4 linked regions of the Homo sapiens genome follow. The protein of the gene in region 2 interacts with the protein of the main gene of each other region in a pairwise test. Each region holds a gene or a part of one and is shown on either strand. Other genes may lie near its edges.

Region 1 (6,531 bases), on a different chromosome or scaffold from region 2:
GAGTGAGCGGGTGGTGGGGGCGCGCCAGGATGGTCCTGTTTCCAGATGGGGTCTCAGGCTCTTTCCCCAGGGCCTGACTGATGCCTCCAACAGTCCGAAAGTTTGCCTGGGCCCACACTGAGTCTGGTGACAAAATGGTTAGGCACAGTTCCAGTGGCTTTTACGCTGAAGAATTCAGAACATTCTCTCAGAAAATGAGGCCTTTTGTCATCTAACCCAAAGAAAATTAAGCGGGTGGATGGCTAGAAAGAGTTCATCTCCAGGGGGGACCCTGAAATCCTTTATATTCTTCCCGGTTTTCTAGGGAACCATCCCCTACATAGATGCCCCAGGCATCTGGGGCTTTTCTGGCAGCTGAAGCTGCCTTCAGAAGGCCAGGGTTATTTTCCAGTTCTGGGGAAGGTAAGTTCTAGTTCCACCTAAGTCAAAGCCCAGCCCTTTCCTTCTCCCCACCCTTCCCCACTCCAGCCATCTCTAAAAGCAAAAAAAAAAAAAAAAAAACCGGTTTTCCATTTTAAATTATTTTATTGTATATTAAAAAACCAAATAAAGCAATAACTTTAAAGACCTCAGACACACACAGTATAAACACCTGGGTAAGGTTTTGTTCGTGTCCATGTTGACACCGGAACTACCGTTAAAGTGCAAGTTTTGTTTTGTGTTCCTTTGTGCAGTTTCACTCACATGTAAACAAGTCACTTGGCTATGATTTGACCCACGCCCCCCCGCTTAGTTTTGGGAGGGCAGAGGCTCTACCGGCTGTCACAGCAACCCGGAATCACAGACAAGATAATGCCCCGTGGGTCCTGACCCTCAAGCGGGCATGACGGTTTCTTGAAGCCTAGCAGAGGCTGGATAACTTCACATCCCTCCCCCACCCCGCGCTCACTCTTAGGTCTTTGAGAAGATAAATCCACCCTCGGCTGGGCCCTCGCTCCCAAAGTTATGGGGGTGGCGGGCCTCAATGGGGGACCGGGGGTGGGGAATAGTCCCAGTCTTGGCCCGTTCTCTTTCCTTCCGGAGCAGATGACCGTCCCTTCTCGGTTCAGTGGCGCCTCCCCAGTGCTGGGGGCGGATCGCCGGGAGGGGAGACGCCAGTCCGCGCGCGCTCCCGGCCTGGGGCGCACCGGGCCGTTGGATTTGACTTAACAAAAAGGTCCTCCTTAGGTTGTGTCGCCAGCGCGGCGGGGCTCCTAGCTGATGACGCAGCGCTCCTTGTCCTTGGCCTGGCTGCCGGCGCTGGCCTTCTCGCGGATGTACATGAGGTCGCTGTGTACGCTGGGCCGGCGCGCGAAGGGTGCCACGATGCCAAAGGCGTCGCCCGGGTCGCCGCCGCCGCCGCCGCTGCCGGCCCGCAGCAGCTTCTTGTTCCGCAGCGCCTTCTTGTGCAGCACGTCGCAGTACTGCACCGAGACCTTGCGGTGCAGGTCTGGGCTCATCTCGCTGGGCAGCTTGGCCATGGCGAAGAGCGCGCGGAACATCTGGTCCAGGCTGCTGTTCTTCTTGGCCGAGATCTCGAAGTAGGCGCAGCGCTGGGGGTCGTCGCCCACCAGCTGCTCGATCTCGCGCTGGTCCACCTCGCGGTAGAAGTCGCGGTCACCCTTGTTGCCGCAGATGACCAGGGGCACGTCCACGTTCTCCTTGGTTTTGTTCTTGAGGCAAGACTTGGTGTCGAGGATCTGCTGCCTGAGCCGCTGCACCTCCTCGAAGGAGTCGCGGTTGTCCAGACTGAACACCAGGATGAAAACGTCTCCTAGAGGGGGCACAGAGAGCAGAAAAGGAGAAGGTGAGGGTGGCCGCCCAGGGGACAAGTCGGGCTGACTTTGAGGCCGCGCGGGGCGCGCTAGCCTCTCTAAGCGCGAAGCGCACTACTCGGCGCGCGGCAGCCGGACCGGCGCTCGCGGGGCGCCCTGGCCGAGGGTTCCCCGCCCTTCCCTCCCGCACCTGCCCGGCCCCCGGCTCACCTGTGAGGATGGAGAGGCGCCGCATGGCGGGGAACGGGTGGTTGCCGGACGTGTCGAGGATGTCGAGCTGGTAGACCTCGCCGCGGATGGAGTAGAACTTGCGGTGGAAGTCCTCGATGGTAGGCGTGTAGGCGTCCTCGAAGCGGCCGGTGAGGAAGCGCGACACGATGGCCGTCTTGCCCACCTTGGACGAGCCGAGGATGACCATGCGATAGCAGTTCTTGGCCGGGATACTCAGCTCCGAGTCGCTCGGGCACATCTTCTTGATCATCGCGGCCAGTTTCATTGGGCAGAGGGGCCGCGAGGGCGGGCGCGGGGCCGAGAGAAGGGCAGAGAGCGGCTGAGGGTCGCTGGGGTGGCACGCGGGGTGAGCGGCTGGAGGGCTCTGCTCGGGCTGGGCGCGGCTCGGGCTTGGGGCTCCGGCTCCGCTCGGGCTGGGCTCGGGCTAGGCTGGGCTCGGCTGGGGTTCTCCCAGGATCTGGGCACAGGCCGCTTGCTCTGGCTTTGGCGCCCGGCCGCCGCCCTTATATGCAGCCTGCTCGGCTGCCCCGCCCCGGCCCTCCCAGCTCGGTGCGTCACGCCCCGCGGGGCCCGCCTCCCCCGCACCGGCTCCCAGTCCCGGCGACCTCGTCACCCGCTGCCGGGCTCCTGCTCTCTGGGCGCGGGGGCTGGGGGGAGCAGTCCAGGGTCGGGCTGAGGCTGGAGGCGCTCGGACTCCGCTTTTCCACTGCCGCGGGCTCGGCGGCCGCAGGGGCGTCGGGGTTCTGGTCCCGGCGGTGCCCCTGTCCCTCTGCGACTTCGGGCAAGGACCCCCATTCCTGCACCTCCCGCGCGCGTACACTTATTTTCTTTGGTTCTCAGTTTCCCCAGAGAATAGGAATCTAGTAAGTAACCCAGTAAGCGCAGCAGCGTTTGCTGAGTGCTTGCGCGGACCGTATATTGCAGTCCTCAGAGCACAGCCCCAGCCCCAGCCCCCTTCCGCTCCGGTCCCCAGCCGGGCTCTTGTTCCCGGGAGGCGACCGCCGGGCGGACGCGGGGTTTCAGGGCCTCAGGCGCGGAGCTCGGCACCGCGCGCTCGGGCCGCCAGAGGGCAGCAGAGGGCCCGGCCGGCGGCTCGGGGAGGCTGTGGCCGCCGCGGGCAGAGCTAGAACAGAGGCTAGGAGCAGGCGGGTGGGGAGCGGCAGGGATGGAGCAGGGGTCTCAGGGCGCCTTGCTGGGGCCCAACAGGAGCGGTCCCCAACCCCGCGCTCTGCTGCAGGCCTCAGCCTGCTCCTTTCTCCCAGCCAGAGATGCTCTGTGGTATGGAGGGCTCTGCAGCCAGCGGCCCACCCCGTCCATCATAGCATTTTGGGCTTTTACTGTGCCGCGCGTGGGCCGACGTTCTCATTGTCTAGCTGAGAGACCTGGAGCTCAAAGCCACAGCGAGCCAGGAAGGCCCTGGGAGCACAGCACAGCCTCTTGCTTTCTCCTGGGCCTCAGTTTTCTCTTCTGGAAGATACTGATTCTGGTTCTGTGATTAAGGATGAAAATATGCAAATGCTTTAGGAGGGCGGGGCCTGGTAATAACAATAGCAACAATAACAGTAGTATTGACCCATGAGGCCTGGTGGGGGTACTCTCAAGAGCACACCAGGTCGATCAGTAACCAGGAGTGGGGTGATGTTGCTGAACATTGGCAACAGGCTGTCTGGAGCCAGCTCCTCAGCCCTGAGCTCTTGAGGCAGTCACTGCTCCTCAAGGCAACCTGTGTGCTCAGTGTTTTGCTTTGGCCACGTCTGACTTACGAGAAAACTAGGGAGCCATTAGCTGGCACCACCGGCCCAGCTGTCAGGTGGTGGTCTGCAGGCAGTGCTGTGAGTGCCATACCACCCACCCCATGCCTACCCACCTCCCTCCCACGCTGGCACTTGCTGTAGGGGCTGCTGCAGGACACCACTAACTTGTTTCTCAGCCCAGCTTGGCCCCCATCCTCAGAGTCCCTGCATCTCTCCCAGGCCTCACTCTTACTGTCAGATATTTCAAATGCACGCATCACACAGTGAGCATCCAAGGGCTCATCAGTGGCCCTGGCCTGGCTCTGATTCCTGGTGTCACTTATGCAGCAGTTATCCGACAGGCTAGCTGGGGCTGGAGCCCCGCCATTCTTGGTTCCTGCCCCCATCTGAGGTATGTCTGCCAGAGTCTGGGAGAAGGGGAGAAGGAACTGAGTCGCAGCCCTGGATATAGGGCTGCAGTGGTGCAGGGTGTTCACTGCATAAAGGAGCCAGTTGAGGGTACATGGGGGGGCTCAGTTAAGGTACGGACCTGAACCACCTTCAGACTGAGCACCGCCTTCCTGTGCCTCCCACAGCGGCACTGCATGGGCAGCCGGGCTCTAACTTGGGATGACTGATGGCCAGGGCTATAGTGAAGGTGGACCCCACACAGCCATTGCCTCCTGGGGCTCTAGTCCCAAGAGGGTCCATTTGATATGAGTGGAGGGCCCGAGGGTCAAGGATCACAGCCCAGCTCTCCCCTGGTCAGTGTCCAGGCTGGCCCCTTAAATCAGGAACATGACACTGGCAGGCACTGATCTAGCCTGTGTCCTCAGCCACAGTGATTCCTGGTACCATCTGTGCATGGCCGTCTGCCCTACGGATGCTGGGTTGTGAAGACCCAGGCCCACCTGCCATTCCCATTCTGAATGCCCCAGAGCGCCTCCTGTCAAGGAGGTGGCCTCTGGGACTTTACTCCTCAAGCAGCAAGCCAACTTCCTTGTTTCCGCCCTCGTCTTTTCTTTTAAAAGGGCATCTCTTTCCTTTTATTACAAAAGTAATAAATGCTCATGGTTTTTTAAAAACCCAAGCCATTTCAGAAAGGACCAGAATGAAAGAAGCACTGGGATCAGGCCTCTCTCGGCCACACCCAGGACAGCCTAGCCACCAATTCTGTGGGGTGGCATCTCCTGATGTCCCCACATGGGCGGACTCCCAACTGCATGAAGGAAGTCTTACCCCGGTGCAGCCTCTGCCACCCAGCTCTTTGTTCATGCAGGTGCCCTTTTTCCTTCTTCTGGGGTTTGCCTGTGTGACTTTATGCCAGGCCCTACCCTAGGCTGGCTAATCAGAGTGGCCGGGGAGGACTGGGGGCTGGAAGACAAACAGGAACAACTCGCAACTCACAGAACCATCCGCCCCGTGGATCCCGGAGTCCCACAGAGAGGGAGCACGTGTACTGGGCTTCCCAGCACTCCCGCCGCCTGGGCCCTGTCAGCCATCGCGGCATTTGATGTCCAGGTTGATCACAGTCCCATGCTGTATGCAATAAATAATTCTGTTTTCTGTGTGTTTGGGGCATGAGACAACAAACAGCGTATATGAGGCTATGAGCCTGTCTGTAAATAGTATTTACCTGCAGTGCAGCAATTTTGCTGCTTAGAGGGGAGGGGAACTGTTTAAAATATTTGACAATGTCGGGGGTGATCTGGGGGTGGGCAGGTGGACCCACCCCCCCCCCACCAGCCCCAGGCAGGAAATGCCAGCCACACAGCCTCATTTGAGGGCAAAGAGCAATTAGAAGGTTCTTGAGAGCTGGGCCAGAGGAGAATGCTGGGCACCCCATCAGAGCTTTGCCTGTTGTGGTGTCCTGAGACAGAGTCCACACAAAGGCCAGAAGTGGCTACTTCAGGTGACAGGAACCCAGAGCACCCTCGGGCCTGGGCATTGCCGTGCTGGCCCGTGCGGCCAGAGCCCATCTCTACCAGCGCCTTGGACAGAGGAGGCCCTGAGGCACGCTTCTATCCTGTGTGGCCCTGGTACGCCACCTCCTGAAGAGGAGGAAAGGGGCAAATAGAGCTGGCTTTGCGTTCCCTCTGACAGGCTCCCCTCATCAAGCTGAGATTTTAACTCTGGTAGATTCCTCATCAGTGATGAGCTCTGTACCCGACAGAGCAGACCCTTCCAGCAGAAGCCAGTTCAGCCCAAGGCTCCCGGCTCTGCCCCAGGAACCAAGGGTCAGGATGCACGGAGCTTTGCTGCCCGGCTCAGCCCATCCATCAGCAATATGTCCTCAAAGGCCGTGTGTGCAGAGGTGCTGGCGGAGGGAGTGAGCACCTGTGCAAGCAGGAGCAGGACGGAGGCACTGGATATGGTCAGACCGGACGCCTCTCATGCCCCTCAAGCCCTGAGACAGATTCTGGATTCTAGAAAGCAAAGAGAAAACCTTGAGGAGCTCCATGGGTGATAAGGGAGGCACTGCCTGAGCACCTGCTTTATACACAAGGCAGTCATGACTATGATGGCCATTTTACACATGAGGGGCCGCAGGGTCAGTGTGTGCAGTGTCCGTCTGGCCCAGTGCCACACCATGCCTTTCCTTGGTCTCGCTCTGTCACCCAGGCTGGAGTGCAGTGGTGTGATCTTGGCTCACTACAACCTCCGCCTCCTGGGTTCAAGCGATTCCCCTGCCTCAGCCTCCAGAGTAGCCGGGAGTGCTGGTGCATGCCACCATGCCTGGCTAATTTTTGTATTTTACCTCAGGACCTTTGCATTGCCACTCCCGATGCCCGGAGGCTCTTCCTCCCTCCTGC
Region 2 (7,022 bases):
TCAGTGAAAATGTGGCATTTTAGGTTGCAAAGTATTATGCAGATTAAAATTAATATTAGTTACTCAAAACTCATAAATTAAGTATACATCCAATAAAAATTTAAAGTTAAGCAGACACCTTACTACATTACATTTTTTGTTTCATGACCATTTTTTTCCTAGCTTGCTTATATGATTAACCACCAGTGGGTGGTGTTTTTTGATATTGTACCTGAAACTGCAAAGTGGAAAGGTTATTTCAAGCTCTCAGATTATGTGATTTTAAGGGAAAGATTAAGGTGGAAATACACTGCTCTCAGCTTTCTTTCCCTTTGGATATTTTAGGCTGTAGGTTTTTCTTCTCTGACTTTCAGTCATTTAATCATTCATATGTGGCAGGTACTGTACTAGGCCCTGGGAATACACAGGTGAGCAAGACAGACAAGGTCTTTTTCTGCAAGGAGCTTGCTTTCTTATGTGGGGAGATAGGCAGCAAACAAGTATAAAATGGAAGATTACCAAAATGATTGAGGCAAGTGTTAAATTAATTGCAGGAAATAAACAGGATGAGGCATTAAAGAGTAAATGAGGGGTGGGTCTACTTTAGGAGGGTCAGCAGGGAAGACTTTTCAGAGGAAATGACTTCTGAGCAGAGAGCTGAAGTCGCTGAGCCAGCCAGGAGATTCTCTAGGAAGAGAAGTGCAGAGAGCCAGCCTGTTCAGTATAAAGTTCTTCCTCTTTCAAAGTGCCTGTCTCTGGGCTTTGGCCAGAGGCATGCTTCCCAGCCTGTGGGCTGGCCACTTGGCAGGCTGCAACCATTTAGGAGAAATAAAGTCCTGTCTCCGCCTCTCCTTTTCTAAAATTATATCTTGTAATTTTTTGCTGAGTTAACAGACATCATCTAATTGGCACATCCTCATTTTACAGGTGAGAACACTGAAGCCCAGAGAGTTGCAGGGAGTCTTGCAGCTCACAGTTGCCTCTCAGATTCCTATGCCTTCCACAGTGTCAACTCCCTCCTTTCCAAACCAAGGCACACACCTTGATTCTCACTGAGGGATTTGTACTAAGGTCATTTGGTGAGGTAAAATCCTAAGTAAAAAAAAAAAAAAAAAAAAATACCTGACGTAAAGGCTTAAAGGTGAGTTTGTAAAAATACAGTAAGATTTTAAAACAAAAGTCAAATTTTACAAAGTTAAAAAAAATCAAAGAAAGAAAAAAGCTGAAACAGATAAGTAAATAAAAGCCTGTAGAGGAAAAATCACCATGCATAAATGTTAATACAGGAAGAGCAGACTTTGTGGGATAAGGTGTTGTGTTGATCAGTGTAGAAGGTGACTTGTCTGAAGAAACATGGATTTGTATCCTAGGGCTAAAAATCTGCCAGCCAATGTTTGCTTACATTTCCTGGTGGCCGATGATAACTAATCTGGAAACATAATCAGAGGAAAAGTAATCATGAAGCCTGCCGTATATGCTATCTCTTCCCTGTGTTCACACATTCACACTTCTCCATAGTGACTCAAGGCAGCTTTGTATTTCCTGGTGTTATTAAACATTTTTTAAACTATGTAACTACTCTAACATTTTCTCCAAACTATATTTTTTGTGATAATGGCAGCTACAATTAATTCAATAAGTATTTATTGAACTATGGCAGTTTTTAGGCACTGTTTTAGTTACTAGTGGCAGAAAAGCGAGTGACAGAGACAACAGTCACTAGATGCTTTACACAGTTTTTAGTGAAGTCCTGCAATAAACCTGCAAGGGGGCTGTTAGTATCCCTGTTTTATAGATGAGAGAGGTGATGTTGAGGAAGGTTACATCAGTCATAAGTGGATTAATGAAAATTTGAACTCAGGTCATTCCATATACACTTTTCCTTAAAAATGTTTTTTCTCTATTCTGATAAAATGCTATATCCACAAATATACAAACACATGCACACTTTTAAAAAAAACATAAGTTTACAAAAATAAGAAAAGAGTAAACTCACTTCATCATCTCACACTTCTTTCGACGGTATCTTGTGGAAATTCCTGTATCTACCTTGGCTCTGTTTTTTTTTTTTTTTTAATGTCTGACTATAGTCTATGCTGTGGATGTGCCATAATTTTTATTTATTCAGGTCTTGTTTTACACATTCATTTAACAATCTTTATCACTCTATATGCCAAGACCTGTACTATTCACTTTGGGGTACAATAGTTAAGAAAATAGGTATTCTGGCTCTTGGGGAGCTTGCAGTCCAGTGAGGGAAGACACAAGATAACAGACCTATAAGATAAATTTTATACTATGTTAAATATTATAAGAATTATAGAAAAAAGAAAAAGAGCTAGGTATGGTTGACTTGGCAGAAAAGGTGTGTGGGTGTGTGTGTGGGATGCTATACATGTTAGATGGGTCAGTTAATCCTCACTAAACAGGAGAGATTTGGGCAATTATTTGAAGGGTGGTAGGAAATTAGCCAAACATATATCTACGGGAAGAGCATTCTAAGTGCAGAAGAGGCAGCTACAGTAAAGGACCTAAGACGGGAGTTTGCCTGTTGTGGTCCAAGCACAAGGAGGTCAGTGTGGCTGGAATGCAATGAGCAAGCAGTTGAGGAGGAGGTCAGAGGGCTAATGAAGGGATGAGTGTTAGGGGAAGATCCACTGCTTAGAGCCCTTTAGGCCACTGCAAAGCCTTTGACTTTTACTTTGCGTGAAATGAGAGGGCACTGCAGAGTTTTGAACAAAGGAGTGACATAAGTTTATCAAGCATGACTCTGGCTGTTCTGTTGAGAAAAGTTTGCCACAGGGCAAGTGTGTAAACTGGGAGAGTTAGGATTCTACTGCAGTAATCCATGTGAGAGGTGATAGCAGTTTAGACCAAGATAGTGGCTACTTTGGTAGTGTGGGGTAACAGAACATGCTGATAGGATTGGATGTGAAGTGTGAAAGAATGGGAAGGATTCAGGATGATTCCACGGATTTTAGCCTGAGGAATTGGAAGGATTGGATTGTCAGCCAACAACTGAGATGGGGAAGGTTGTGGGTGGAGGAGGTTTGAAGAGGGCAGATCACGGGTTCAGTTTAAGGCATGTTGTTTTTGAGATGTCTGTTAGACAGCAAGGGGATATGTCAAAGTGTCAGTGAGATACAATTGTATAATGCAGTTCCTCCTTCCCATTCTTTAAAATGTCACACATTTTATGTTTTATGTTATAAATCTTACAGTACGTTTTTACTCTTGTTTCTTTAGATCATCAGTGATCTTTTAGAGCAATTAAAATGAAGACAAATTGTCTTTGTTATGTACCTCTACTTTTTACCATTACATTTAGCTATTTATTTATTTATTTATTTATTTATTTATTTATTTATGAGATACAGTCTTGCTCTGTCGTCCAGGCTAAAGTGCAGAGGTGCGATCTCAGCTCACTGCAACCTTTGCCTCCCAGGTTCCAGCTATTCTCCTGCCTCAGCCTCCTGAGTAGCTGTGATTATAGGTGCCCACCACCACACCTGGCTAATTTTTGTATTTTTAATAGACAGGGTTTTACCATGTTGGTGAGGCTGATCTCGAACTCCTGACCTCAAGTGATTTGCCCACCTCGGCCTCCCAAAGTGCTGGGATTACAGGCATGAACCACCGTGCCTGGCCCATTTATTTATTTTGAACTAAGTTTCTGTCTGGTATCATATTCTGAATGCTGAAGAACTTCATTTAACATTTCTTATAACACTTGTCTTCTGGCAATGAATTTTCTCAGCCTTTATCTGCCCTTCTGCCCTGCTCTTGTTCTTCTCCCCACAGTGGACTTCGCTGTGTTATTTTTTGGTGCTGGGTGGGCTGATGGTGAGGGGTATGGGAGAAGGATCTCTGTTGTCTTGTTCCATTCGCCCTCTTATGTAGGGTTTCTCTGCCTGGGCACTGGGAGTTGGGCTTTCTCAATATGCCTGCTCCTCTTCCCTAGGAGAGCTAATCTTTTAACTTGTGTCAGTGGTTGGTCTTTTGTGGGTGAACATTTCTTGTCCCTTCCCCAGTGGTAGGAGTCCTTTGATGGTTGTGGTCTAAGTGCTTGAGCCTGTACTGTTTCTTTCCCTTCTCCCCGCAGTGGTGGATCTTTACTGGGGTCATCCTGGGGATGACATAGTTTATTGCTTTTCTTCAGTAGCTAAAGGCTTTCTTCTGATATGAGAAAAAGGTCAGGACAGGAGGTGTACACTGTCATGCCATTCTTGCAGCAGCTGCTGTTCCGCTCTTGCATGACAGCATCACTGAGGAAGTCTCTTTGTTCTCCCATCTGTTCCCAAACCTCTCTCACATGGGGAGGTCCTTGGAAAATAATGTGAACATGCCTGTGAGCATCTCTTGGGTCTGGGGCTTGCTGTAGTTCTATACCTTCATTCTGTCTCACATTCCTCCTTTAGCAAGTTGTTAAAATGTTAGTTGATTTTTTACTTGTTTGGATGGTGGATGGAGTAGGGCACTGGCCACAGGTAAGCTAGTGCTCTCCTTAAGAAAAGTTATGATTTTGCAGTTTATCATTCTCATTGTTAGGATAGTAGTGATACTCTTACTAACCTTCTTGGTGGAAACTGAACTTTTATATATTTTTTATTTCAATAGCTTTAGGGGTACAAGTGGTTTTTGGTTACATGGATGAATTGTATAGTGGTGAAGTTTGAGATTTTGGTGTACCACTCACTGAGTAATGTATATTAAATCCAATATGGAGTTTGGATAACCCTCCTAGCCTGTCTCTTCCGAGTGTCCAGTGTTCATTATACCACTCTGTATGCCTTTGTGTACCCACAGCTTAGCTCCCATTTGTAAGTGAGAATGTGTGGTATTTGGTTTTTCATTCCTGAGTTACTTCACTTAGAATAATGGCCTCCAGCTAGATCCAAGCCGCTGCCAGAGACATTATTTTGTTATTTTTTATGGCTGAATAGTATTACATTGTGTATATATACATTTTCTTTTATCCACTCATAGGCTGATGGGCACTTAGGTTGATTCCATCTCTTTATGATTGTGAATTGGGCTGTGATAAACATACATGTGCAGGTGTCTTTTTGATACAATGCAGTTGATACAAAGCATTTCCTCTGCTTGCACTCACTCCATCCTGCAGCCCTTGGAAGAAGGTGCGTGCTTCTCTTTTGCCTTCCACCATGATTCTGTTTCCTGAGGCCTCCCTAGCAATGTGGAACTGTGAGCCAATTAAACCTCTTTCCTTTATAAATTACCCAGACTTAGGGAAGTTCTTTATAGCAGTGTGAGAATAGATTAATACACTTCTCATCCCTTTAAAAAAATACTCTGGAGTTATGGTTTTATATGTGAGGTTTCCTGGATCTGTTCTCTAAATATCATATTTTTATCTGGTCATGGTTTTCACTTGAGATTTTGTTTTTGAATTTGATTCTAAATATCATATTTTTATCTGTTCGTAGTTTTCACTTGAGATTTTTTTTTGAATTTGATTCTTATCTCTTTCTTTCAATTCATTCTGTAAAGATATTTAATTGGGAAGTTAATGGTTTTTAACTCTTAAAAGTTTTTTTTTTTTTGAGTGCTGTATTTGAATCTCCTTAAATTTTCTTAGATAATTCAGGTATTCCCTTTAGTTGAGGTATTCTGTCTGCTGCAGAACACAGAGCGTGGGTCTAATTCTTCTGCCTTATCTTCCTTTTTCTAGCAGCTCTGCTCCTTTGTATGGGCTGTATCCCTTGGTTGACTCATTGGAGCTCAAGACTGTTATTGAATAGTCCTCTGTGGCGTCAGTCCTGCAGGTGGTAGAAGGCAAATGGGTCTCTCTTCAGTGGGCCTGCACTGGCAGATAGGCTGTCAGTTCCCTGTCAGTCAGCTTTCTGGTCTCCTTGTACTTTTGTGGGCATCAAGAGCAGGAAAGATTGTGGGCTGTGACCCCCTCCATCTCTGACTTTCAAATTCTTTTTGGGATTCCCTGGTTTTCAGTCCTTGTCCCTGGTTACTCTGCTGTCCTCTACTTTATTACTAAGTCTACTGGAGAGAACACCTCACACCAGATTTCTGCCAGAACCTAAGGCTTCACTTGCATCCATTTGCCCACAGATGCTAGTAGTAGTTGTTTTGCTCAAGAGAGGAAAGTAACAGGTTTGAGGGTGAAGGGGAAAGGTGTTGCATTCAGGTCACCATATACCCACAATTCTTTTTGTCGCATCTCTTCTGCATTTCCGTTTTGTATTATTTCATAAGTGATGCATTTCATAAAGAATAATTCCATTTTATTATAGGCACCACTACATTTCTTTCCCCTGACCTCTGCTATATCAACTGGAGTAAGAGAGACAACTGCAGTAATTAAACTTGAAGTTTTTGTTCTCCCTCTAACAGGAAGCTGGCAGATGGAACAAGATGTTTGTGGCCATTAGTTCAGTGGCTCAAAATGTCAGGGCAGAAGTCTTTGCAATTCTCTTGGACTCAAGGTGGCTGCTTCAGCCCCAGCTATCATGCTCATATTCCAGGTAGGGAGAAACAGGATTAGGTATACTTTCTAGTTGACTCAGCTTCATTTAAGAACTTGTGTGATAGTTCCATACAATGATTTCTACTCACAGGTTGTTTGCTCCCTTCTCTTCGAGATAAATATAGTATTTTACCTGGATACATTAGTACCCTTAACACGATCAGTGTTCTAGTACTAATGGGAATGGATATAGGGAGGCAACTAGTCTGCCTCAGACTTCCTACAGTGGGGAAGGAAGATTGGTTATTTTTCACATTGAACTTTTAAGAAACACATTTAATACACTATTGAAGGTCTAATTATATTGCAAAGGCACATCCATGCACAGTAGTTTAACATTGAAACATAATTATGTTCTAAGTGGGGACTCTAGTCTCCTTCTGTGAAAAACATCATTATTTCAAATATAAATGACTCAACTGCAGATTGATTCACTTTAATGTATTTATTTCATCTATATGTATATTTTTTATTTCTGAACTATTTCAAAGTAAATTACAGATGTTGTGACAATTCACCCCTCAATACTTTAGCATAAGGA
Region 3 (7,965 bases), on a different chromosome or scaffold from region 2:
AAAAAATAAAAAAGAATAAGGAGGCAAGCCACAATAAAGAGGAGAGGAGACATGACCGCCAGTGGCATACAATACAAAGTGTCTTCAGAGGAAGTTGTAGCTTAGCTGAAATTTCAGAAAGTAGGTGGCCACGGGTTCCATGGCTGCCTGGATATGCAGAGGGAAAGTGATGACTGAAAACACCTTTAAAGAACATAAGGGTTTTACTGCCCACTATGCTGGGGAGGCCAGACTGGAAGACGTGAGAGTCTGAAAACAAGGGTGTAACCCAGAAAGAAAATTCTTTCACCTATACCCAACACAAAACTTCTCCTCCATGTATCTTGCATGGCAACTTTTTACGATTTTCCTTCAAATAGCAATTCTATAAGCCTATGGGCTTTTAAACTTTTTGTATAATGGACCCTAGGATGATCTATTTAAAACCCCAAAAGAGGCCGGGTGCAGTGGCTTACACCTGTAATCCCAACACTTTGGGAGGCCAAAGCGGGCAGATTACCTGAGGTCAGGAGTTCAAGACCAGCCTGGCCAACATGGTGAGAAACCCATCTCTACAAAAATACAAAAATTAGCCGGGCATGACCGTAAGTGCCTGTAATCCCAGCTACTCGGGAGGCTGAGGTGACAGAATCGCTCAAACCCGGGAGACGGAGGTTGCAGTGAGCAGAGATCGCGCCATTGCACTCCAGCCTGGGTGACAGTGAGACACCATCTCAAAAAATAAATAAATAAAATAAATAAAACCCGAAAGAATATATATCATTTATGCATGCTTATGAATTTGCTTCCACATTCAGGAGCCTTACAGGAATCCCTAGAAGCCCATCTTTGTGCCTCCAAATAAGAACCTAAGCTACTAAGCCCAGCGGGATGATGGAGTGAGGAGTGGGCATGGTTTACATTTTCTTTTCTTGTTCTCTTGCAGGGATTTAAACCCATGGGATTTAAACTATTCCTAATTTCAAACACAGGATATTTACTCTCAAACCCTTGCCCACCAGCACTGGCAGTCTGTACATGTCTTTGACCCTCCTAATTTCAGAATCTGGTTTTAAGAATCGCAGTTGGTGCTTTCCTTCTAGACCACACGCTTCCACTCAGCTTGGCTGGATGTGAGCACTTCCCTACTCCACTGGTCTCTGCCTTCAAATCTCAGAGTCCATGACTAGGCTGCTCTGTTTTAGGGCCCTGTCTTTCTCAGAAATAGTAAGAAAGTCATAATTGTATCTCATATCTTGCTGCTTATATTTATCAAGTTTCTACAGCAACTGATCACTTTCAGGAAAGCTATACTCCTCAAATGGGAGAATCTTGTTTCTGAAGTCCTCCAAGGAATGCAGTGTTACCTTGGCACTCTATTTTTTTGTGTGTGCAACAATGTCTTTTATTATGTATGCGGTTTTAAAATTATTTCTTGAATCTCTCCATACACAGGCAAAAAATAAGTGTGCTACTTAACATACTGGAACTTGCCTAACTTAATCATTGCCCAGAGAAGGGAAAATTATCACCAAAATGTGCTTAACCAGGAGGCCAATGCATCTGCCAACCTCCAAGAACATGGAGATGAACTTGACAGACAGACTGTCCACCATCTGAACCTTTATTCACCACCATTTGATAACCCTTATTCAGGCCCAAATCAGCAGCACATTTCTTGCCAACAATCATTAAGTGTCCAAGAAGACTTTCGTCATTATCTTCTGCTGCAGAAATCTGGGATATATGTTTTTTCGATATCAACAGAAAACGTGTTGGTGCTTGAGGGGAAGTGTCATGGAAAGCAAGGCACTGGTCATCCTCAAAAATGATTTTGGCTGGGATTTCCTTGCAGATGATCTTCCCGAAGACAGTGTTGCCACCAGGCCGAGCGACCTGAGCCTTGGCGATCTCACCTGCCATCTCTGCCTGTCTCCCACACAGCAGGCAGGGTAGAGGCTCAGAAGGAGGGAGGAACCCACAGATTCTATTTTCTTTGTTAAGAAAGTAATCCTTTCTGCTCATACCAATCCCATAGATGTCTATCCTTATTTTCTGCCTGCAGAAAAGGTGGGTATCATCACAGAATGTTTAGTCTCTCAATTCATCACACATTTGTAATTTTTTGGAGAGATTATAGGCCTTGAGGTTTGTAGGATTGTTGTTAGAGCAGGTGTTTTGTTTTTTTTTTTTTTTAGCTACATTGGTGTATAATTGACAACTAGAAATTATACATATTTAATTACTACTTGAGACCGTGATTACAGCAGTTACTACTGTTACCACTTGAAACCATCATTATGACCGAACAAAGGGACGAATGTAGAAATGAAAACTTAAGACAAAAGAAACTGTTTTAAGGAAAGGCAACATGAAGAAGAAGAGAGCTCCCTGCTTCTAGTGAGCAAAGGCAGCTCCCCTGCCGAGCTTCTCAGCCCTTCATATTTACTGGGTAACAAGAACAAGAAGGAGGTAACGATTGGTCAGCTGCTGAATTGATCACAGGTTCATATTGTTACTGACAAGCTTCAATTGTACCTAATCATAAGAAACATTTGTGCGGCCTCCAACAATGTACAACTTGATGTGTTGATATATGTGTACATTGTGAATGATCATCACAATCAAGCCGGTTAACATATCCATCACCTCACATAGTTGCTTTGGGGGTGCAGGGAGGTGAGAACATTCAAGATCTACCCTCTTAGCAAATTTCAAGTATGTGGTATTACTACCTATAGTTACCATGCACATTAGATCTCCAGGACTTTCTCATCTTGTATAAGTGAACCTTGTATCCTTTGACCAAATTTCCCCATTCTCCCACCCCCTACTCCAGCCCAGCCCCTGGCAACTACCCTCTACTTTCTGCTTCTATGAGTTTGACTATTTTAGATTCCACATACAAGTGCAATCATGCAGTATTTTTCTTTCTGTGTCTGCAATGTTTGACTTAGCGTAATGTCCTCCAAGTTCATCCATGTTGTCACAAGTGGCAGGATTTTCTTCTTTGTCAGGGTTGAATAGTATTCCATTATATATATTTATATACACATGACATTATTCATCTGTTAGTGGACACTTAGGTTGTTTCCATTTCTAGGCTATTGTGAATAATGCTGTAATGAACATGGGAGTGCAGATACCTCTTTGAGATACTGATTTCCTTTCCCTTGGATGTATGGGAGTTGCTGAGTCATATGGCAGTTCTGTTTTTACCTTTTGAGGAACTTTTATACTGTTTTTCATAATGACTATACCAGTTTACATTCCCACCAACAGTGCACAAGGGTTCCCTTTTCTCTGCATTCTCACTAACATTTATCTCATCTTTTTATTTAATTTTTTTTTGAGACATAATCTCACTCTGTAGACCAGGATGGATTGCAGTGGTGCCTTCCCAGCTCACTGCAGCCTCCACCTCCCGGGCTTCAGTGATCCTCCTGTCTCAGCCTCCCAAGTAGCTGGGACTACAGGCGTGCACCACCACACATGGCTGATTTTTATAATTTTTATAGAGACAGGGTCTCCCCATGTTGCCAGGTTGGTCTCGAACTGCTGGGCTTAAGCATTCCACCCGCCTTGGTCACCCACATTGCTGGGATTATAAGCATGAACCATAATATCCATAGCCATAATAATGGCTATCTCTTGCTTTTTTGATAATAGCCATCCTAACAGGTATGAGGCGATATTGCATTATGATTTTGGTTTCCTGATGATTAATGATGTTGAGGCCCTAGAAAAAGTACTTTTAATGATATTGGCTTCCCTCCTGCTTTGGGTGGTTCCATTTAGCCTAGGTCAAAATCACATTGTAGACCAGATGTTTGGTGTCCCTACCCTGCAGTCCCTGAACTTGGACTGTCCTGGGACAGACCCCACTTGGTAATGCATCCTAAACTTTACTTTGGCTCAGTTCATATCTTTTCTCCTACAGTGAAGAGTTCATAGGGAAGACATGTCATAGGAAAATTGGTTTTATAACGTGATGCCAGGAAGAAAAGTTTGTCCTTGGCCAAAAAAGTATTTATTGACCTGAAAAGGGAAGAATAGCAGAGAGCACTTCCCCATCATCTTTCATGTTTGTCGGGCTTGTCATGAGAAGCCCTCACCCCTTTCCCACCTCTCCCTTCCCTGTGCCTCTTTCTACTTTCGATTCTCCCCTGTTATCTCCCTTGTTATCTATCTGATGGAGCCAGTGTGGGCACTCCACAGTCCAAATGGAAGCTCAGTCCCTCCGGGTTGGCAGTGTGGCTGACACCTAACAGTCTGGGAAGTGGGAGAAATTCTAGAACCCAAGGCTATTACCGACCCTCGACTTCCCACTTCCCATAAGTGTTCCACACCCAGTGAGTGATAAGGATGGGATCAGGGGATGCCCCCAAGCTGTTATTAGCAGCCTCTGGCAGACAGAAGGGCAAAGAGCTAGAGAAGAACGCTGGACATGGGATGGGCTGGCAGAGCTGGCCAGACAGAACCCTGGGTGGACACAGAGTTGGGAACAAGCTGGCCAGGAGATGTGGCAGAGAGGCACCAGTTACTTTCCCAGGTGAGTTAATGTGCCAGTGTTTCCAGAACTTCGAGTCGCTTCATCTTTATCCAGCACCCACCCCTCACCTTCCGCATCCTGAAGAAGAGAGATGGGCAACTGGAGGGCTTCCATGCAGATCCGGCTCTACACATAGGTTTGAGAGCATACTCAGCAGTTTCTCATCCTGGTCCAGGCGATATTTATAGAGGGACCAGTGACATGGAGCTGGAAGCCTACTACTGGTGACTAAGAAGGGGGACAATGCCACTGGCTCAGCAGAGGGAATTCCCTGTGGGGCTGTCCCTCAGGTTCTCATCCCAACCCCCACCCCCACACTGCACTCACACCTGCTTCGACCCCAAGCAGATCAGATGTGGCAGTGGGGGGTCATGTGACGGAGAGGGGTCTATAAATAGCTGGAGGTGGGCATGCTGCCCCAGACGCCTTGGGGACAGCAAGAGCAGAGGCTTAAGGAGCTACACTGGGGGAAGGACAGGGGCAAGCAGGCCAAGGCCTGGCCGGGGCTCGGGGGGAGGGAATATGGAGCAATCCCGGTCACAGCAGCGTGGGGGTGAACAAAGCTGGTGGGGTAGTGACCCCCAGTACCAGTATATGCCCTTTGAACACTGCACCAGCTACGGACTGCCCTCTGAGAATGGGGGCCTCCAGCACAGGCTCCGGAAGGATGCAGGCCCCCGCCACAACGTCCACCCCACACAGGTAAAGTGCTCTAAGGGGAGAGGGGAGCCATGGATGAGGGGAGACAGTGGTGCCAGAGACTGGTGAAAATGAGGAATTGGGTGAAAAGAGGGAGCAGTGTTACATTTTTTTAACTTAAAAAACAAGTACGTGGTGATGTGTTCAAAATATGAAAATCTTTGAAAGTCTGGGCTCACTTAAGTATGCACTTAGAGAGATATGCATGCACTTTCATACAACCTTTACCAACAGAGTACCCAAATCATATGGGGAAACAGCAGAGCCTCACATGCATGAATAGCTCGTGCTTACATAACCTACGTGGAGTGGATTGCGTAGGAGCCCACACTGCAGTGTGCTGGGAGCTGTCTCCCACACCCTCACCCACAGGTAGACACTGCCAGATTTCTGCCTCTGGGACCCTCTGCAGAATACACACAAACATGAATCTTTCTGCAGAAGGCAGAAGAAAGGAATTGGGCAAGTGTAGAAAACAGACTGAATTGCTTATCAGTGATCAAAGATCTACCAACGTCAAAATGAGCAGAGATGTACAAGCTTTTAGGTCGCAAGATGATCAAGTAAGAACCTATTAAGTGTTAGGCACCTGGAAAAGGGCAGAGATGTGATCCCAGCAACAGAAGCATGCAGGCTAATTAGGAGTGTCTATGGATGAGCAGCCTCCCGCTGTGGGATTGGTGGGATATGAACACCTAGGAAAGGGGGAATGGGGATGGGCACAACTAAAGGAAAGGTTGTGAAATTGTCATGGAAAAAGATAGGTCATGGTTAATAAGTAAGTGTGCCTCTCCCTCCAAAGAATGCAGAGAATAACAGAGGATAGAATTTGTCTAGAGGGCAGTTGGCCAGAACTTTTTTTTTTTTTTTTTTTTTTGAGATGGAGTCTCGCTCTGTCTCCCAGGCTGGAGTGCAGTGGTGCTATCTTGGCTCACTGCGACCTCCGCCTCCCGGGTTCAAGCAATTCTCTTTCCTCAGCCTCCTGAGTAGCTGGGATTACAAGCACCTGCCACCATACCTGGCAAATTTTTGTACTTTCAGTAGAGACGGGGTTTTGCCATGTTGGCCAGGCTGTCTCGAACTCCTGACCTCAGGTAATTCACCCGCCTTGGCCTCCCAAAGTGCTGGAATTACAGGTGTTAACCACTGTGCCCAGTCTGGTCAGAACTTAAAAGGCTTTTTTTTCTTTCTTTTTTTTTTTTTTAACAGGGAGCCTTCAGTTCCTTTAGGTTTAAGGCTGGGAAGCTGAGGCATGAGCTATGCAGGGGATCTCAGCACTGGGGGTCAAAAGGATCTGCTCTCAGTCCCTGACCAACCCCCAGGAGTATTTGCAAAGGCAGCGCTAGGGACCCAGTAGGGAAGAGGGACATACAGGTCAGTGTAGGCTGGAATCGAGCATTGGGAAGGTTTCTTGGAGACAGCGGGGTCTGACTAGGCCTTTGAACACTGTGTGGGATCAGCAGGAGGGAAGACCCCTCCCCCTGGCCCTGTGTTCTCACTCGTGTACATGGTTGTATCTGGGTGGGATGGCAACTTGAGTAACAGTGCCATTATGGCACTTCCTGATGACAGTTCTCGTGTTGGGAAGCTATGGTTAGTTTGGGGAGTAGAATTGGCCTGTTTTCTACAGGTCTCAAAAGTAAACAAGAGTTTGGATTAGTTTTTCTTTGTTTAATTTTTATTATGGAAGACTTACACAAAAATGGAATGGTATAGTGAAGCCCCAAGTACCCACCAGTTGTCAATATTTTGTCACTATTGTTCCATCTATTCTTCCCTTCCCCACCCTCACCACTCTACACACCATGGAATACTTTTTTTTTGTTTTTTGTTTTTTGTTTTTTGTTTTTGAGATGGAGTTTCGCTCTTGTTGCCCAGGCTGGAATGCAATGGCGCGATCTCAGCTCACCGCAATCTCCGCCTCCCTGGTTCAAGCAATTCTCCTGCCTCCGCCTCCCAGGTAGCTGAGATTACAGGCATGCGCCACCATGCCTGGCTAATTTTTGTATTTTTAGTAGAGACGAGGTTTCTCCATGTTGGTCAGGCTGGTCTTGATCTCCTGACCTCAGGTAACCTGCCCATCTCAGGCTCCTAAAGTGCTGGGGTTACAGGGGTGAGCCACTGAGCCTTGCTTCCACCTTGGAATACTTTTTAACAAATCCCAGACATTGTATCACTTGTAGACTTGAGTTTTGACTTCTCCCTTGCCCTCCCCTCACCCTGCCCTGCATGGGACCAGCCAGAACAGATCTGGCCCTTTAAGTGTTTTCCCAGCCCAGGTATGATGATATGAAGCAACCCCCTTCCTTGTCTCCACTGGCCTGGGGCCTTGAGGAGCTGAGACAGCCTCAGCTGTCTGACTTCCACTGGGAAGTATGTTCTCTCTCTGGGTCCCACGCAGGGTTTGGAAGGAAACACTGCCTCCCTCGGTCACTGACCCAGAAGACAAACAGCCATGAGCAGGGCAATTCATGTGCGTGCTTGTTCAGGACTGCGGTGTAAAATGCTGCTCATATTGTGAAATCAGATCTCTTCTACTCAGGCTCTCCCAGAATCCAGCAACATGGCCTGGCCTGACCCTGGCCCCAGAGGACAGTTAGTGTAGTGGGAGTGGGGCAGGCTAAAAGTGGTTGGAGCTCTTGTATACCCCACACAGACACACGTGCTCTGCCTCAGGATGGAAGCGGAGGGCCACCAGACCTGGGGGAGCTGCTCTGTCCTCTTCACATGTGGGG
Region 4 (7,527 bases), on a different chromosome or scaffold from region 2:
GGAGGACAGGCTGTGGGAGGGTGTGAACCGGATACTGCTTGAAGGGGTGCTGGGGACTTTGAGAGAGGGCGGCTGGCCCTGTCTGGTCGGGGATGCTGGCCCAGACACAGGCCATGGCTGGGATGGGGTTCAGAAACAGGACCGCTGTCTCTCCCGGGCCAGGGCCCTCCCCAGCTGCTCCTGGCTTTCTGGTTCTTGGGGTCAGGGGCAGGCCTGTGCCATGACCCCGCCACTGAGGCTGTGAGGAGGCTGTCGGTGCCCAAGGGCACCAAGGCACACCCCTACTCTTGCACCCCATGTGTGGGCCCGAGCACCTGCTCTGCTGCCCCAAAGATCTGGCGATGTTTCCCAGGCAACTGTCTCTCACAGCCTGTCTGCCTGGCACTCCCGTATCCCATAAATGCCACCACATCTGGCTATGGGTGGGCGTGCCTGCCTGGCATCCACGGGCCAGCAGGTGTGGTGGAGCACAGCCCAGTTCCTGGCTGCGTCAGAAGGCTGCCCGGGCCTTTTGGCTGTCCTTGCCAGCAGGTGAGCACTGCCAGGGCACCGTGTGTGGGTGCTGGGCCATTTAGCCACATGGGAAGGGGTGGAGGCAGCCCAGTGCCTTCAGCATGTGCCCAGGGTGCCTGTCGGCCACAGGTCTCATTTGGAAATTGGGAGGGTGCACGGCCACCGGGCTGCTTAGGCCTGCCAGCCTCAGGGCCCGTCACCGCTGTCTTAGCCTGATTTGCAGGGTGTCAGCGCTGGGCAGAGATGAACATTTGGGTGACTCTGAGGATGCCAGTGGCTGGGACACTTGTTCTTCCGCGGTGGAAGGAGTTGGAGAGGCCTGGCTCCCTGACCTACGGCCAGCCTGGCTTCTGAAACCAGCTCAGTGGGCTGGGGCCTGATTCATCATCCATAAATGTGTCCTTTTTTGCCACAGAGGGTAAGGGGCCTCCTAGCCCACCGGTCTGCAGGTGCGGGAGTAGGAGATGGGTGGCTCTGATGCCCCCACCCACTCGATCACCTTCTGCTCTGCCTGGGATGCAAACTCCCACAGCTGAAACGTTCTTTTGTAAACATGAATTTTGGCTTAGAAAAAACTCATTTCCACTGTGCACGTGTCAGTCCCAACCAGAAATTATTTTCCAATAAAGCAAAACTCCGTCACCACAGCAGCAGATGGCTCCGAAGAAGTGGAGCGTTTTCATCAGGTTCAACTTTGAAACCTCCACCATCACCATCACCAGCACCGCTGTGTCATGCTGATAACTTGAGGACAGGCAGGACAAGGTATGTTTGTTGGAGGTGAACATGCTTCCTTGTCTTGAGAGTCTTGAGTGGCCGGTCCCCTTCCAGGCCCTCGGCTGGCAGGCAGCTGTCGGGAAGCTGTCAGGCGGGAGGGGATTGGGGGTCAGGCTTCCTGACAAGTGGAGGCACCCGCCACGTGCCCAGAGCAGAGGTCACCCCAGTGCCTTTCTCTGTGGACTTATCTCTGGCTGTAGGTCACAGGGGCCTGCCCCACTGCCCCCTCCCCAGTGGTGACATGGGAGGAGGGGAGATTAATCCAGAGCAGCAGATAAACTGGAGGGGAAGAGCCCCCAGGAGGACAACTGTGACACGTTGTGCTGCCTCTGCGTCCCCAAAGCACCAGGCCCAGAGGCCCTGCCTTCTGCCCCATGGCACTGGCCTGGGGCCCTGGCTCCTCTTCCCTGGTGGCCAAGGGTAAATGAGGCCCACTGGGGTGGCTAAGACTCAAGGGGATGGGGGCCCCCCAGCTTCAGTGATGCGGGCTGGAGCCAGGCTCAGCCAGCCCTGAGGTCCCCTGCAGGCCCGTGCCTCCTACCCTTGGGGCACCCGCAGCGAGAGCTTCCCAAGCAGCCTGCGCCAGCCGGGCAGCGCAGGTGTCCCGGGTCTGGGTCACTTGAGACCCCGCCCTGCTTCTGCTCGGCTCTGCCCCTCTTGGGCCCAGTGGCCAGGGCACCTGCATGGGGGAGCCGGGAGGGGCTGGAAGGATGCTGAAGACCCCAGCAAAGCTCTAGTGTTTGGCTTTCCAGGGGTGGGGGCTGGGTCCTCCCGCCCAGAAAGGCCCCTGTTCTGGGGCAGCAGCCACACACAGGTGTCCCTCACATGGTCCTCCAGGACAGGGCAGGGGCCTGAGTTTCCCAGGCTCTGCCCAAGGGACCCAGGCAGGGAAGGAGATGGGTCCCAGGGGGCTCGGAGCCCATCCAGAGGCCGGCCGGTCCCATGGCAGGAGGGCACTGGACCATGTGGGGGCCATAGAGGAGGAGGAGGCAGGAGCCACCCCCGGGTCCAACAGCAGAACCCTGGGGTTGGGAGCCAGAGTGGGGAAGGGAGAGGAAGGAGCAAGAACACCCCCCACCACCCCCAGCACGGCACAGAGAGCTGAGCAAACACTTGTCACCAAGGGCTTTTCTCCTCTGTCTTTTTTTGTTTTTCGAGACAGAGTCTTGCTGTGATGCCCAAGCTGTTGTGCAGTGGTGCGATCTTGGCTCACCACAACCTATGCCTCCTAGGCTCAGGTGGTTTTCGTGCCTCAGCCACCCAAGTAGTTGGGATTAAAGGTGTGCACCACCATGCCCGGCTAATTTTTGTATTTTTAGTAGAGATGGGGTTTCTGCATGTTGGCCAGGCTGGTCTCAAACTCCTGGCCTCAAGTGATCCTCCCGACTTGGCCTCCCAAAGTGCTGGGATTGCAGGCTTGAGCCACCACACCTGGCCTATTTTTTTTTTTTTTTGAGTTGGGGTCTGGAGTGCAGTGGCACGATCTTGCCTCACTGCAGCCCCCACCTACCTGGGCTCAGGTGATCCTCCCACCTTAGCCACCCAAGTAGGTGGGACCACAGGCACATGCCACCATGCCCAGCTAATTTTTTATTTATAGAGACAAGGTCTTGCCATGTTGCCCAGGCTGGTCTCAAACTCCTGGGCTCAAGCAATCTGCCTGCCTGGACCTCCCCAAGTCCTAGAATTGCAGGCATGGGCTGCTGGGCCTGGCCTTTTCTCCTGTCTTGGGAGGCTGGGACCAGTCTTCCTGGAAGTACCCAAGGCCCTCCTGCAGACCATGGTGACATTTCCAGGAAAGACCCAGAAGCTCGGAGCTGAAGCCAGGGCAGCCAGGACTGTCGGGGAGCCCTGGACACTGGCTGTCTGAGAGCGCTTGGTCAGCTGGCACCTGCCATGTGGTGGACGTGGGGCTGCAGAGACCCCACGGCTGGGCTTCTCTCGCCTGAGAGCAGGCCCAGCCACAGGCTACCTCCCACAGGGCCCCCTGAGACCACACGGCCTGCAGCAGCTCCCCCAGGCCCCCTCCCCCTGCCCGGGCAGCACTCAGCGCTGCATCTCCATCTGCTCACTCAAGTCGAAGGGCCTGGGGGTTGGTGCCTCCATCTTGTTCTGCTGGGGGCCTCCAGCATCTAGAGCAGGAAGGTGTGCGGAAGAAAACCACTCATGCAGGGAGAGGGGGACCTCCCAGTCCAGGCCCTGCTGCTGACCCTTTCCCTGAACACCAACCTATGGCCTCCAGGCTGGGGCCCCTTGAAGGACGGTGGGCCACTCGGGTGGCCTGGGTTCAGGGCCGGGCTCCACAGCTGAGTTCTGGAGGGAGGGCACAGACGACTGGGGGCTGGGAGGGGCCAGGTGAGGGGTAGGAACAGCCAGGGAGCCCTGCAGGAGGGGTGCCCAGCATAGCCCCAAAGCTGCTGGGGCTGGGCAGGGCAGAAACTGCCAAGGAGTCCCAGAGCCCTGAGTGGCGTCTGGCGAGGGCCCCTGACCCTGATCTCTGTAGACCCCACTCCTTCCGTGAGGGTGGCAGCCACTCCAGGGCCCAGCAGGGCCAAGGGAGAGGCAAGTGGCCTGGGCCCATGGGGCACTGGGCACAGCCAAGTGTGGCACCAGGGTGCCTGGGCGGCTGCTGCCACCACGTGGCCGACTTTGAGGTCGCAGAGCCCGGGGTCCAGGCAGGAAAGCCCCTCAGCTGCCCCCAGGGCCCTGGCCCAGGCCCCTGAGGCCCAAGTGAGCCACCTGGACTTTGTCACTTCGCCTCTGGTTTCTTGGTTAAGGAGCTTGAGTTCCCCGCCTTTTGTAAAGAAACGGTGGTGGCGACGGCGGATTTCAAGCTTTATTTACTCCTGGAATGGTCCTGGGAGGAGAGGCGGCTCCGCAGAGCCGGAAACGGGGGCGGGAGCTGTTGGGTGCAGCCGGGAGGAGGCAGTGCCGGGGCGGGCCGGGCAGCCATCGGGGTAACGGAGGGGGCTCCGGCCCGGGGGCTGCCCGGACGGGAAAGGGGACACGGGCGGGGCTCCCCCACCTGGGCCCCCCACCCTCACGCCAGGCCCCCCTGTGCGGTGCAGGACGAAGGAACCCTGGCCTCAGTTTCCCTACAGGCTGGGATCAGGGCCCCTGGGGTTCCGACTGTCTCGGAGGGGGGCGGCCTCGCTGCAGAGGTCTGGAGGCGGGGCCGGGGCGGGGGCGGGGCCTGGAGGGGCGGGGGCGGGGCTTGCGCTCACTTCCGCCCGGCGCGGGCTTGGATGGAGGCGGCGCGGAGGCCGCGGCTGGGGTTGAGCCGCCGGAGGCCGCGCCCGGCGGGCGGGTGAGGCCGGGAGCCGGGCGGGGGCGCGGCCGGTTTTCCCGCTCCCACGTGCTTCCCGGCGCCCCCGCGGGCCTCCCGCTCTATTCTCCCCCTGGGGAGGGCTCCCTGCCCCCGGGCCCGGCCCCCACGCCCGTCGCCCCACCCCGCGCCGCCATTCAGCGCCCGCCTTGAGCCCCCACCCCACGCCGAGCTTCCCCCGCGCCGCCCCAGGCCCTCCCGCGCCTCTCCCATCATCGCGTCTCCCCTGAGCACCCCCCATCTAACCCTCTACCTTCCCCAGGCCCTCCGCAATCTCCCCAACCATCGCCTCATCCCGCTGAGGACCCCATATTTCCACCCACCCACCCCGCTCCCCCACCCCCAGTACCCCTCATCTCCGCACTGTCTGCCCCAGCAGCCCTTCCCCCAACCCTGCCGGCCACCTCCCGCACCATCGAATTTCCCTCTAGTACCCCCCATCTCCCCGCTCTCTCTGCCCCAGGCCCTCCCGGGTCTCCCCACCATAGCGTTTCCGCTACTGAGTACCCCCTGTCTGCCCTCTCTGTCTGCCCCAGGCCTTCTGGCGGCCGCCCCTGGTTTCTCCTGGGGGGTGATGAGCGGGAGCGGCTCTGGGCCGAGCTACTGCGCACGGTGAGCCCGGAGCTGATCCTGGATCACGAGGTGCCTTCACTGCCCGCCTTCCCAGGACAGGTGTGCCCACTGGGCCCATCTTAGCGATGAAGGGGTTTCCAGGGCGGGAGCCATCGCTGGGCAAGGCCCAACAACTCTGTGTTGCAGGAGCCCAGGTGCGGCCCGGAGCCCACTGAAGTCTTCACTGTCGGACCCAAGACCTTTTCCTGGACACCCTTTCCGCCGGACCTGTGGGGCCCGGGCCGTTCCTACCGGCTGCTTCACGGGGCAGGAGGGCACCTGGAATCCCCCGCCAGGTCCCTGCCCCAGCGCCCGGCACCTGATCCCTGCAGGGCCCCCAGGGTGGAGCAGCAGCCGTCTGTGGAGGGTGCCGCGGCCCTGCGCAGCTGCCCCATGTGCCAGAAGGAGTTCGCCCCCAGGTGAGTAGGCCACCCCTGCGCCCGGCCCGGTTATCCATCCGTGTTTGGAAACCACAGCCGTTCAGAAGGTCAAGAGGTGGCCGAGCTCAGCGCTGGCTTTTAAAGCCCTGTTTCACACTGGAAAGGTGGCCCAGTGCTGTGGCCTGGCATGTCCAGGTGGCTCTCTGTCACGGGTCTGGGGTCCACCTGCTTGCCGTGCTCTGTGGGCAGGGCAGGCTGGGGGCCCACAGAACAGCACAGAAGGAAGGCTGGGAGCACTGGCCCCGGGTCCACCTGGCCATCCTGGAATCTGGTGGCACCAGCGTCCCCAGGCCCAGAGCACAGGAACACCTTCCCGAGAGTGCGTCATGGGTTTTAAAAATGAAGATCGTCTTTTTTGTCTGGAGATGCTTTTTCTTATTTTTGAAACCCAACGTATATTTTTATGTATTTTTTAAGTAAAGGGGAATGGAACCCAGTTTTGCTAACAAGATAACCCAAACTGCCCAGTGCCTGGCCTTGTGTCTGGCGACCTCTGGGCCCTTGGCCTCCGGAGCAGGTCCTGGGGCTGGGGTGGTGTGAATGATGCTGGTTCGTAACTTTTGGTTGAGTTAATGGGCGGCAGGTTTCAGAGCTTATGGAGACCAGGTCCTTCAGTCATGCCTGATGCCCCTGGTCTTCCAGAAGCAAAAACAGCTCGGGAATGCGAAGGCACCGGAGTCCAAAGTTGGCAGCCAACAACAACAACAACAAAAGAAAAGGCCGGGCACGGTGGCTCACGCCTGTAATCCCAGCCCTTTGAGAGGCTGAGGCAGGTGGGTTGCTGGAGCCCAGGAGTTTGAGACCAGCCTGGGCAACATGGCAAGATCCCATCTTTACATGCCTGGGCGTGGTGGCGCGTGCCTGTGGTCCTAGCTACTCTGGAGGCTGAAGTGGGAGGATTCCCTTGAGCCAGGAATTGGAGGCTGTAGTGAAGTATGATTGCACCACTGCACTCCAGCCTGGGTGACAGAGTAAGACCCTGAATCACGGACAGAGGGTACTGTTGGGAGCCCTGGGGAGAAATCCATGCTCTTGGCTGAAGCTCTGAGATCCTTGTTGCTGTCAGGGTGCTGCCCCCCGCCCCCCGGGGAGGGGCTTTTGTCTTTGCATCGCCTGCTTTTCCAGATAGTCTAAAAAAAGACTTCTGAAGACAAGGACGTTCACGAGGAAAAACTTGCCATTTTGAGCTTTTTAAGCAGTTGCTGAAAGCTTGGCAGACTGCCTCAATTTTTCCTAAGTAGGCGTCAATGAAGTCAGGTCCAGGCCTTGGTGTGTCTGGAATGCTTCAAGCACATTCGAACACTTGATCGTAAGGGAGAGCCGGTACTTTGGAACCGGAACTCACCCGAGGCTGTGGCCACCGCATGGGCAGGCTAGCTGGGGGACAAGCCCCATATCTTTGGGAACAAGGGTTTGCACAGCCACCCTGGGATGCCCTGGGACTCCTGACCGCACAGGACCCCAGCAGGGAGGCCGCCTGGATTGGAGGGTCTGGTCTAACAGCCGGACTTGGTCTTGAACCGTCGCCCTGTCCCGCACAGGCGCCTGCTGAGCCTGGAGCCCTGGCAGAGGCGGGTCTGGGGAGTGGAGCTGCCAGGAGGCCTCCCATTTCTCACAGCCTTGGTGTTCTCCGGGTCACCCAGAGGACCGTCAAATGCTGGATTTGACAAACTATGTAGAATGTTCTTTGTGTCTTTAAGATCTTCTTGTGGTCCTATTTGGACATTTTGTGCATTTTCAGACACCTGCGGGTCACGTGGGTGGATGGGAAGCTGGGCACCTGGTGAGGGGTGAGGATGTTGAGAGCCAGAGCTGCGTTTTGTCTCTGTTGATGTGGCGAGGCCCTGGGTTGGTCACTGG

Evidence for each region.
Region 1: the proteins of PRDM5 (region 2) and RASD1 interact in binary tests that used the Homo sapiens proteins (3 or more experiments, as listed by UniProt).
Region 3: the proteins of PRDM5 (region 2) and CLCN1 interact in binary tests that used the Homo sapiens proteins (3 or more experiments, as listed by UniProt).
Region 4: the proteins of PRDM5 (region 2) and FAAP20 interact in binary tests that used the Homo sapiens proteins (3 or more experiments, as listed by UniProt).

What each region holds. Positions count from the first base shown.
Region 1 is NC_000017.11:17,493,932-17,500,462, forward strand, and holds RASD1 (dexamethasone-induced Ras-related protein 1 isoform 1 proprotein), read right to left. Parts: upstream 2,465-6,531; 5' UTR 2,251-2,464; coding exon 1,965-2,250; intron 1,754-1,964; coding exon 1,194-1,753; 3' UTR 506-1,193; downstream 1-505. UniProt on the Homo sapiens protein: Small GTPase. Negatively regulates the transcription regulation activity of the APBB1/FE65-APP complex via its interaction with APBB1/FE65.
Region 2 is NC_000004.12:120,912,712-120,919,733, reverse strand, and holds part of PRDM5 (PR domain zinc finger protein 5), read left to right. Parts: intron 1-3,643; exon of another isoform or gene 3,644-6,464; coding exon of another isoform or gene 6,465-6,479; intron 6,480-7,022. UniProt on the Homo sapiens protein: Sequence-specific DNA-binding transcription factor. Represses transcription at least in part by recruitment of the histone methyltransferase EHMT2/G9A and histone deacetylases such as HDAC1.
Region 3 is NC_000007.14:143,311,160-143,319,124, forward strand, and holds the start of CLCN1 (chloride channel protein 1), read left to right. Parts: upstream 1-4,951; 5' UTR 4,952-5,053; coding exon 5,054-5,233; intron 5,234-7,965. UniProt on the Homo sapiens protein: Voltage-gated chloride channel involved in skeletal muscle excitability.
Region 4 is NC_000001.11:2,191,758-2,199,284, reverse strand, and holds the start of FAAP20 (Fanconi anemia core complex-associated protein 20), read left to right. Parts: upstream 1-4,512; 5' UTR 4,513-4,535; coding exon 4,536-4,597; intron 4,598-5,151; coding exon 5,152-5,287; intron 5,288-5,374; coding exon 5,375-5,646; intron 5,647-6,309; coding exon of another isoform or gene 6,310-6,427; exon of another isoform or gene 6,428-7,527. UniProt on the Homo sapiens protein: Component of the Fanconi anemia (FA) complex required to recruit the FA complex to DNA interstrand cross-links (ICLs) and promote ICLs repair.